Linked DNA regions of Homo sapiens. The protein of the gene in region 1 interacts with the protein of each later gene in a pairwise test. Each region holds a gene or a part of one and is shown on either strand. Other genes may lie near its edges.

The links.
Region 2: the proteins of PPP2R5E (region 1) and CRY1 interact in a two-hybrid assay, tested with the Homo sapiens proteins (one study listed by BioGRID).
Region 3: the proteins of PPP2R5E (region 1) and NOD2 interact in a two-hybrid assay, tested with the Homo sapiens proteins (one study listed by BioGRID and IntAct).

Annotation. Positions count from the first base shown.
Region 1 is NC_000014.9:63,393,310-63,396,960, forward strand, and holds part of PPP2R5E (serine/threonine-protein phosphatase 2A 56 kDa regulatory subunit epsilon isoform), read right to left. Parts: intron 3,408-3,651; coding exon 3,277-3,407; intron 1,977-3,276; coding exon 1,917-1,976; intron 620-1,916; coding exon 511-619; intron 1-510. UniProt on the Homo sapiens protein: The B regulatory subunit might modulate substrate selectivity and catalytic activity, and might also direct the localization of the catalytic enzyme to a particular subcellular compartment.
Region 2 is NC_000012.12:107,020,409-107,024,059, forward strand, and holds part of CRY1 (cryptochrome-1), read right to left. Parts: intron 1,785-3,651; coding exon 1,676-1,784; intron 1-1,675.
Region 3 is NC_000016.10:50,710,548-50,714,198, reverse strand, and holds part of NOD2 (nucleotide-binding oligomerization domain-containing protein 2), read right to left. Parts: intron 3,642-3,651; coding exon 1,826-3,641; coding exon of another isoform or gene 1,825-1,825; exon of another isoform or gene 1,562-1,824; intron 1,447-1,561; coding exon of another isoform or gene 1,446-1,446; exon of another isoform or gene 610-1,445; intron 1-609. UniProt on the Homo sapiens protein: Pattern recognition receptor (PRR) that detects bacterial peptidoglycan fragments and other danger signals and plays an important role in gastrointestinal immunity.

The DNA.
Region 1 (3,651 bases):
CACTTTAAAAATATTTCCATGATTCTACTGTGCATAGAAAAAAAATGCATACATTTTTATTTCCCTCGGGGAGTATTTTAAACTTAAGTAAGTCTCTTTCCTTTGGGAATGAAGGCGATAGGCCCGGCGCCGTGGCTCACACCTCTGTAATCCCAGCACTTTGGGAGGCCAAGGTGGGCGGATCATGAGGTCAGAAGACCCAGACCATCTTGGCCAACATGGTAAAACCCCGTCTCTACTAAAAATACAAAAATTAGCTGGGCATGGTGGCGTGCGCTTGTAGTCACAGCTACTCGGGAGGCTGAGGCAGAAGAATTGCTTGAACCCGGGAGGTGGAGGCTGCAGTGAGCCAAGACTGTCCCACTGCACTCCAGCCTGGGCGGCAGAGCAAGACTCCGTCTCAAAAAACAAAAACCAAAAAAACAAAATGAAGGTTATATCAATATCAAAAAAACGAGTTTGCAAACTTTTTATTTTGCTTCTAAAAGTAGTTGTACAAAATCCTCCTACCTGTGCATGGAAGAGTGATAAGCTCCTGACAGTGTGTAAAGGGATCAATACTTTCACCAGAAACTGTTTGTGTTCTGCCTTAAGAGGTAAAGCAAAGCCATTGATAATACTAGGGAGAAAAAAGAGACACAAATTAGCAATGTTACCACAAGTTGAACTGAGACAAACTGTTCTTGTGATATTAATTAAACTTAATCAGTTTGTTTGTACAAAACAACATAATACCCACCCCAGTGGCATTCAGAATTTCCTTTTTTTTTTTTTTTTTTTTTTTTTTGAGACAGAGTCATCTTGCTCTATTGCCCAGGCTGGAGTGCAGTGGCCCAATCTCAGCTCACTGCAACCTTCGCCTCCGGGATTCAAGCTATTCCTATGCCTCAGGCCTCCCAAGTAGCTGGGATTACAGGCACCCACCACCATGCCTGGCTAATTTTTTTGTATTTTTAGTAGAGAAGGAGTTTCACCATATTGTCCAGACTGGTCTAGAACTCTTAACTGCAAATGATCTGCCCACCTTGGCCTCCCAAAGTGCTGGGATAATAGGCGTGAGCCACCACACCCAGCCAGGATTTCTTAATGACTTCAAGGAATACAAAAAGTTGGAAGGAAATTTAAGAGAAGAAAATTTGCTTCTGGTCACCCAACAAAGGCTCCTGTGCTCCTAAAATTAGTCAGATGGTTTCCAAAAGCTCTTTATCAAAACCCTTTATTTTCCCTCCCTTTTCCTTCTCCAAATAATGGCCCGCCTTGCTTGCTTCCGCCTTAAATATGACCTTTTCCATTTCCAGACATCATTCCTTCTCATTCCTGAAACCTCTGCCCAGCCTAGGGAAATCACTGAGAGAAAGCCATGTGACTCCACCTTCTTTTTCTCTTCATATTAGGAGAAAAGATTAAGTAATCATATTGTCCAGCTACATTATCCTCCCTTGTGTGTAGAAACTTACACCACAGCTCTTTCCAATTCATTCCACTACTCCAGGCTGCAGCTGTTCAAGGACTATACCTGGATACACAACTCCTTTGAAAATGGCAATCTTTCCAATTTATTATAAACTTGCTTTCAACAGATAAGGCAAAGGACCAGATAGCCTAAAAACTAATGAGAATAAGATGTTTTGGAGTAACTAGCCTGACCACAATTAGATGTACCATCTTTCTAGTAATGAATGAACTGTCAGCTCTTTCAGTCATTCCAGTGGAAATGGCAATGCATACTTGTGGAACAAGGGGAACAGGAAATTGTGTCTTGTAGAGTCAGCTGGAAAATATGCTAATAGGCACAAATGAGAGAGACCCAATGTACATACAGCAAGAGAACTAGGTGAGCATCTCTTGGTGCCACCTGAACCTAATTTTTAAAATAATATTCATCTGAGATTAGCAATTAGAAAAACCGTGCTCACCTTCCTAATATTTCCAGCAGTTCAGCTACACCATTGAAGTGTTCTGTTTCATAAACAAACCTGAGAGAAGAGGAGAAAAGGGAGGAGAAAGGAGGAGAGGAGGAGGAGAAGGAAGGGATAAAAAGAGGAGGAGGAGGAGGAGAAGGGGGAGGAGGAGGAGAAGAGGAGGAGGAGGAGGAGAGCGGGGAAGAGAGGAGGAGAGGGAGGACAAGGGGGAAGAGAGAAGGAGGAGGAGGAGGGGGGAAGAGAGGAGGAGGAGAGGAGGGGGGAAGAGAGGAGGAGGAGAGGAGGGAAGAGAGGAGGAGGAGAGGAGGGAAGAGAGGAGGAGAGGAGGGAAGAGAGGAGGAGAGGAGGGAAGAGAGGAGGAGAGAGGGGAAGAGAGGAGATGGGGGAGAGATGGGGGAAGAGAGGAGAGGGAGGAGAAGATGGGGAGAGAGGGGGAGGAGAGGAGGGAAGAGCGGAGGAGAGAGGGGAGAAGAGGGGGGAGGAGAGGGTGGAAGGGAGGAGGAGCAGAGGGAAAAGGGAGGAGGAGGGGGGAAGAGAGGAGGAGACGGGGGAGAGATGGGGGGAAGAGAGGAGGAGAGGGAGGAGGAGAGGAGGAGGAGGGGGAGGGGGAGAAAAGGAGGGAAGAGAGGAGTCGGGGAGGAGAGGAGAAGGGGGGAAGAGAGGAGGGGAGCGGGAAGATGGGGGAGGGAGAGGTGGGGGAAGAGAGGAGGACAGGGAGGAGAAGAGGAGGAGAAGGGGGAGGGGGAGAAAAGGAGGGAAGAGACGGGGGAGGAGAGGAGAAGGGGGGAAGAGAGGGGAGGGGGAAGATGGGGGAGGGAGAGGTGGGGGAAGAGAGGAGGAGAGGGAGGAAAAGAGGAGAAGGGGGAGGGGGCAGGAGAGGAGGAGAGCGGGGAGGAGAGGAGGAGAGGGAGGGAGAAAGGAGGAGGACAGGGGATAGAGGAGGAGGAGGAGAGAGGAGAGGAAAAGAGGAGAGGAGGAGGAGATGGGGGAGGAGGAGAAGGGGGAGGAGAAAAGCAGGGGAGAGGGAAGAGGAGGGGGAAAGTAGGGGGAGAGGAGGGATAGAGAAGAAGCAGTGGGGGGAGGAGGGAGAGGAAGAGGAAAAGAGGAGGAAGAGGAGGGTGGGAGGAGAAGATGGGGGAGGAGAGGAGAAGATGGGGGAGGAGAGGAGAAGATGGGGGAGGAGAGGAGGGGGAGGGGGTAGAGGAAGAGGCAGGAGAGTCAGTAGAATGAAGGAAGGCAGGCAGAAAGGGAGAAAGAGAAGTCAGTACACCGTTTTCAGATATTTGAGATTTACTTAATACTCATAAAAACACCAACTTTGCTTCTCCTTCTTCCCCCATCACACTCCACTTACCTTAGAAAAATATTGTTAATCTGTTTTCGGATAAATGCTCTAAGACCAAGAAACTTGCCATAAATTCTGTGTAAGACTGTTTTTAAGTAGTCCCGTTCCCGAGGGTCTTCGCTGTCAAATAGCTCCAGAAGCTGTTGTAAATGAAAGACATTATAGCTGTCAAAGGCGGTTTCAGAAAAGGATTTAGGAATTCTATTATTTAAAATCCCCTTCTTCCTTCCTCAAAAAATGTGTTGAATATCTATTATGTGCCAAGCACAGTGCTAGTCTTTGGGCATATCATGATAAACAAGTCAGACAAGGAGCTTATATTCCACTAAAGAAATACAAATACAAAATAACAACAATAAAAGTAATAATATGAATAATAGCTAA
Region 2 (3,651 bases), on another chromosome or scaffold:
TCTCAAGTTGAATTATAATCGCCAATGTTGGAAGTGGAGCCTGGTGGGAGGTGATTGGATCATGGTGGCAGATTTCCCCTTGGTGCTCTGATAGTGAGTGAGTGCTTGCAAGATCTGTTTTTTTTTTTGTTTTTTGTTTTTTTTAAAGTGTGGCACCTCCCCGCTCCTTCTCTCTTCCTCCTGCTCTGGCCATGTGAAGTTCTTACTTCCCCTTTCCCTTCCCCTTCCACCATGATTGTAAGTTTCCTGAGGCCTTCCCAGAAGCCACTATGCTTCCTGTACAGCCTGCAGAACTGTGAGCCAATTAAATCTCTTTTCTTTATAAATTATACAGTCTCAGATATTTCTTTGCAGCAATGTGAAAATGGACTAATACAGTAATAAATAGGAAGGGATGAATACAAAAAGGGCAATGAGGAAACTCAGTTTCTGGTCTGGGCATTTCCATGAGCTAGTTGTATGATCTTGGGCAACTCAATTATTCTCTAGGCCTAATTTTTTCATTTGGAAAAAAGGGAAGAGATAAGATTAGGTATCTTAAACATTTTTAAAGATTTTTAAGATCCTACTAAGTTTTTTAAAAAGCACTACAGTGCTGGGCGCAGTGGCTCACACCTTTAATTCCAGCACTTTGGGAGGTCGAGGCCGGTGGATCACCTAAGGTCAGGAGTTCGAGACCAGCCTGACCAACATGGTGAAACCCTGTCTCTACTAAAAGTACAAAATTAGCCAGGCATGGTGGCGTGCGCCAGTAATCCCAGCTACTCAGGAAGCTGAGGCAGAAGAATCACCTGAACCCAGGAGGCAGAGGTTGTAGTGCGCTGAGATTGCGCCATTGCACTCTAGCCTGGGCGACAAGAGCAAGACTCCATCTCAAAAAAAGAAAAAAAAAAGCACTACAAATTCTGTATTATTGGTAAAATGTCCATTGTTACAATCCTTTGACCCAGAAAGTCTTCTAAGAATTATCCCACAAATGTACTGGCCCATGTGAGCAAAGATTCATAAATGTGGACAAGTAAGTTCACTGGCATTTATACTAGCAAAAGGCCTACAGAGAAAATAATTAAACGTTCAGTAGAAAGCTAGTTTAAAAAATTATAGCCATCTACAAAATGGAATACTATGAAGTCATCTGAAAGACCGAGGAAATGATATGGAACAACTTCCAAAAGATATGGTTATGTGAACAAAGCATGGCAGAGAATGGTGTGTATAGTGTGTCATTTTAACTTTTAACAAAGGGGACAGTAACACAGACACAAACACATGGATGTGTGTGTGTGTATACACATATATATATACACACACACACACAAAAATATATATATATACACACACAAAAAATTCTTGTTTATGCAAAGAATATTTCTAATTGGATAAACAAGAAACTGGAATTGGATACATAAGAAACTGGTAGTAGCTGTTGCTTCTGGGAGGGCAACGAGCAGTTTAAGGTAGAAGAAAGATTGAACTTTTCATTGTAAACTATTTTCTCACTGTCTGATTTTTACCATGTATAGCTTTTTCATTAAATAAAGAAAAAAAACCCACAAAATTTTTACTTGAAAATACTTATATTCGCTACATTTTCAATTAGTCAAAAAACTTTATTTACCAAATATGTAATATTATCTGAGAAAAGATTGTTTTATGCAAATATTTTTCAAATTACCTTGAAAAGCCTGGGAAACACATCTGCTGGTTGTCCACGAATCACAAACAGACGGGAGTTTAATTTTCGTAGATTGGCATCAAGATCCTCAAGACACTGAAGCAAAAATCTAGAGAGAAGAAAGTATTATTTAAATTATTAAAAAATACATATTTAGAAGACATAAATTATTACAAAGTCATGTTATTCTAAAAGTTGAAATGCCAACCTATCATCTTATTACCTCCTATTGATATATACTTTTTCCAAAAACCATACTAATATATATTTTTTAATTATAGCACAAATTACCTAGTATTTTAATAAAATACTGAATAAAATCACTAATTTTCATTAAATAAAAGTGACTATTAGCAAAAATTTAATTTGTGAACATAAAAACATACAAAGAAGTATCAAAGCAATTAAATTGGTTTCATTGTTTAAACTTGATGAAATATTTTCTGTATGAAAATGGCTTTTCATATAGAAAGGAAAACTTGAAAAATCTAGAATATCTTCTGCTGGGGGGAAAAAACCAGAAACATCCTATGTAATGAATAAGCAAGTGAATAATTTAAGAATATCATGGTAAAAAGGAATCTGAGGGGACAAAAAAAAAAGATTATGAGTACTTTTTTGTAATATTGTAATCATTTAAGAGATTGAAATCATAATGCCCATTTTCAAGTTTCTAATTTATTAAAAAAAGAAACTAATAAGTAGATGCCAAATTATGTGGTTATTAATTCCCTGAGTGTAGAAAATGCCAGATTAACTTCTAAAAAAAAAAAAAAAGAAAAGGTTTCATGGAGTTGGGGTGGAGATTATAGACTTTTTCAATGAAATAAGTAGTAACAAGGCTTACACATGACAGATATCTAGGAAAATTCTGGGGCAGTACCAGAAGACTGCTTACTGTGCATCTTCTGTTGCGAAGAAATGGAACATTCCCAAGAACAAATTTAAAAGAGATGTCACCCATGGAAGGTCCAATCTTATTATTTGACTCATGTTAAGTTTCATTTAGATTCTGTTCTTTTCAGCTGGACGTATCTTATTTCCTATTTTGCTTCTTTTATGTTTTTGATCTCAAGGTTAAGTATTTGTCTGCCTTTTTCACAGGCCACATGGTCTTTCAGAATAGCAATTATCTCTTACTTGTGAAGAGGAGTGATTAAGAAGCAGGGAAATGCAAATTCTAGAAGTGCACTATCTAATATGGTAACCAAAAGGCACATGTAGCCATTTAAATTTAAGTTAGTTAAATTTAAAAATCAGTTCCTTAGTCACACTTGCCACATTTCAAGTCCTCAACAGCCACATGTATAGCTGGTGGCTGGCTACCATACTGAACAGTATAGCTACAGAACATTTCCATCATTGCAGAAAGTTCTACTGGACAGATTGTTCTAAAAAGCTGCTTGGTCTAGATCATTTTGTTCGCTTTACACATTCCGATACCATCATTTCACCAAATAAGTCTTGTTGATTTTTTACAACTGTAGTTATTAGTGACATAAGTGCACTAGTCAGGTCTGACACTTCTTCCTCTTTAGGAGCACCATCTGTACAGCTTGAAGAGTCAAGGTGCTATATTTTTATGAGGATGTTAAAGACATCCCACCATTTCACCTTAGGAAGTCTCATGGGTTTCCAAGTAGGAAGCAAACCTTTCTATCCCCACATTTATATTTTATCACATCCCTTTTCTGCCTTGGTTTGGAGTCACCTCCCTAACACCTGATCCCCATCCTAACCCACCACTACCAATGTACAAATATTTCAGGGGAGAAGACTGTTGTTGTTAGATGGATAGTGATATAAAAGCATTGGAGTTTAATAAAATTATCTCCAACTATGAATAATTTATCATGTCTGGTGACAAATGTTTATTGGGAAGCATCTAATTTTATGTATTTGCTTGGCAAGAAGAGTTACTAGACAGAACAAAGATCGAAGGGTTTTTACACAGATCAAAAATTAAGAAGTTGAAA
Region 3 (3,651 bases), on another chromosome or scaffold:
CCCTAATCAAGGATGGATGATCCATTCAAGAATTCCAGAGATGGACTGGCCTATGAGGATCACACAGGCCAGTGATGCCTGGCCTCTTGGGGTAAAAACTGAGTCTACTACCCAGGAAAATGCACATTCTTATTTCTATCAGGGAAATTGCTCCAACAGACAGGTTTCCAAATTCCCACTCAAAGTATCATGATCCTCCCTCCTAGGGAAATAGAGTTTGGTGCTGGCTGTTTTCCATTTGCCTGGCCAGATCCACTCTCCCCCTTCTCTACCCGTCCCTGGCTCCTGGGAGGCTGATGCCTGGGGACTACTCCAGCAGACAGCCCACTCGGCCTCCCTGATGGGTCCAGCTGGTGGAAGGCGCTGGCCAGGAGCAAGAGTTGGGGTGAGGAGTTAGGGCCAAGCGGTATTCTTCCACTTTGCAGAAGCTCAGGCAGCCGTCTCCATACCTTCCCCCCAGCTAATTAGTCTCCCTCCCCTTCCCCCTTCAAGTCTACCCTCCCCCAGCTGTTACTAACCCCAGGCCCCTGCACCAACCCTCTCACTCTTCCTAACTCCTGCCCATGGCTTGTAAACAATCTGTTTTTCAAACTCTCCTCAAAACACCCATTTTAAGTGTGTCATCTGTTTCCTCCAAGACCATGATGGGTATAATCATATTTACATTCATTGCATATAATACATATATATATTCGCTATATATGTTATGTATTATGTTGTTATTATGCTTTAACCTAAAGACCATGGTCCCTATGTCAGGGTTAACAAAATTCACTACACAGTTTCTAGTGGGTATCCATGTGTTTGGTCCATGATGAAAAATAAATCTTGTTGCTTTGCCCCCAGAGAAGATGTATACCATCCTAATACTCTCAGGAAGTGGTTTGTCCCATGCTTAGGGTCAATTAAGGTCATCCAGGTGTAGCCCAAAGCCCCTGGAGGCTGGGAATCAATTTTAACTTCAATCTAGAACTTCTGCTTTCCTATAGGTTCTAAATAGAAGCAGGGCAATCCCCTTTCAAGCTGGAAGGATGTTGGGGAATCTGTCGCATGCTGATCCGCAGGCCTAGGCACACCCTCTGCCCTTGCCTGCCCCCAAGATGTGGAAAGAGGCCCCCGAGTTCAGGGGCACAGATTCTCCAAAGGGCAAAACCTCACATCTTTGGCTGGGGCTCTAAGCAATACGGGTAGTGCTGAAATCCTGTTTGGACACTGTGCTACCTCAGGAATCCAACAGTAGTTGTAACCCTGCAGCCACTTTCTATTTCTTGGGTCCTGAAATTCCCATCTGGTTGGGGTGTTAAAGTCTCTGATGGGGCACAAGTCACCTCTGATTTGGTGTTGTTCCTGATACGGACACATACTACACAAAACTTTCTGCAAGTGACCTCAAGGTTTTCAGGGAGCCTCTGAAGTGTATCCATAGACTGGTGGGAGGCAGAAAACCTGTAATCAGAATGATGCAATTTGTGAACCCCAGCTCTGCCATTTCCTGGACAAGTTACTTCACTTCTCTGAGCCTCAAGTCAAGGATAATGGAGATAATAACATTCCTGCCTACCCGCCAGGGTGGTTGTAGAGATTAGATGAGGTCATTCCGGAAAGCATAGCACCAGACCCAGCACATAGGCCAGTCAATAAAGTGTGGCTGTCATCATCACATATTGAAATTAAGGCCCAGAAGGGAAGGGATCTGGGCAGTGTTGCAAAGCAGGGTGGCAGAGGCGAAGCTGGGCCCAGACTTCTAGAGCCCAGCTCGGTGCTCCCACACTTAGCCTTGATGGTGCTCCCCCATACCTGAACAGCAATGCCCAGTAACACTCACTACAGAGCCTTGCAGACACCAAGGCAAGGCAGCAGCTGCTCCACGCCAATGTCACCCACAGAGTTGTAGTCCAGCTGCAGGGCCACGGGCCGCCGGAGGTGCTGCAGCACAAAGGCCAGGGCAGCACACTCAGTGGGGCCCACACTGCAAAATGTCAACTTGAGGTGCCCAACATTCAGGCCACGTGCAGCCTTCCGAGCCAGCCGCTCCTCCTGCATCTCGTACAGGCTCCGGATGAGCCAGATGAACCCGGGCATGGCATGCACGCTCTTGGCCTCACCCGGTGCAGCTGGCGGGATGGAGTGGAAGTGCTTGCGGAGGCTGCGGGCCAGACACCAGCGGGCACAGGCCTGGCGCCGGAGCAGGGCCTTCTCAGATGTCTGGCACTCAGCCAGCAGGCCCCAGTGCTCCCGGGACAACAGCCCTGCCAGGAAGGCTGCTGTGATCTGAAGGTTGTGCGGCTCGGCCTTCTGCAGCAAAGCTGCCACGCTGCTGTCCTTTCCCTCCGAGGCCTGGATGCACATCGTGGGCAGGAGCCTGGCCATTGGTGAGTTGCCTGGCCTGCCACAATTGAAGAGGTGTCTGAGCAAAGCTGGTGGCACATCAGCACTGAGTGCCAGGTAGAACGCGGCAAAGAAGCACTGGAAAGTGATGTGAAGGAATTCCAGGGGCGCCGTACTCCCTGGCACGACACCTTTGGCACGCACCAGGAAGCCAAGAGAAATGTCATCAGGGCTGACCTGTGCTGCCTGGAGCTGCTGGGCTGAGAACACGTAGCAGCACATGCCCAGGCCCCACAGAGCCAGTCTGCCCAGGTGCAGGAGGGTGGGGAGGCGGCCCCGAAGAAGACTGGGTCCCAGACCTTGGGAAGCTGAGTCTGGGGGGGTGGCATGCAGCAGAAAATGCTGCAGAATCAGCAGGTACATATCTGTAGTGGTCTTTGGGGACCCCCCCTCCTGCAGCAACAGTTCCTGGTGGCATTTGGACACCATCCATGAGAAGACAGGCAGGTGGCACAAACCGTGCAGGGCTGAGGTCTCTTGGAGCAGGCGGATGAGGCGGTCCGCCACCCCGGGCTCATGATGGCGCTTCCTCAGGTACAGCTCGATGCCCTGTTCAGAGAAGCCCTTGAGGTTGAACTCGGTGCGGATGTACTTCCTGAGGAACGCCGACACAGCGGCCGGACGGCTGGTCACCACCTTGCGGGCATTCTTCAGCAGGTTGCCCTGCAGAAGGTTGAAGAGCAGGGTCTGGACAGAGGTGGGGTCGGTCGGGGAGCAGTGGCGTTCACGATCCGTGAACCTGAACTTGAACTCGTCAAAGCCATCAAAGGTTAACAGGACACGGTCAGGGTGGTCAAGGAGTAACTGGAAGATGTCTTCTTGACCAACATCAGGCCAACAGCAGTGCTCAAAGAGTAGAGTCCGCACAGAGAGTGGTTTGGCCATGCACTGCAGCTGCCGGCAGCTGAATGGGAAGACAAAGAGAAATTCCTGGAAGTCTTGCCCTGCAGCCCACAGCAAGTGCAGCCGCTGCAGGAGCGTGCTCTTGCCACTGCCCGCCTCACCCACCACCAGCACAGTGTCCGCATCGTCATTGAGGTGGCCAGGGGTGCTGAAGAGCTCCTCCAGGCCCAGGGTGGCTGGGCTCTTCTGCGGGGGTCCAGCCATGCCCACATCTGCCCAGACCTCCAGGACATTCTCTGTGTATATGTCCTCCAGGCAGAGCGTCTCTGCTCCATCATAGGTACTGAGGAAGCGAGACTGAGCAGACACCGTGGTCCTCAGCTTGGCCATATACTTCTTGCATGTGGCAGCTGGAAGGCA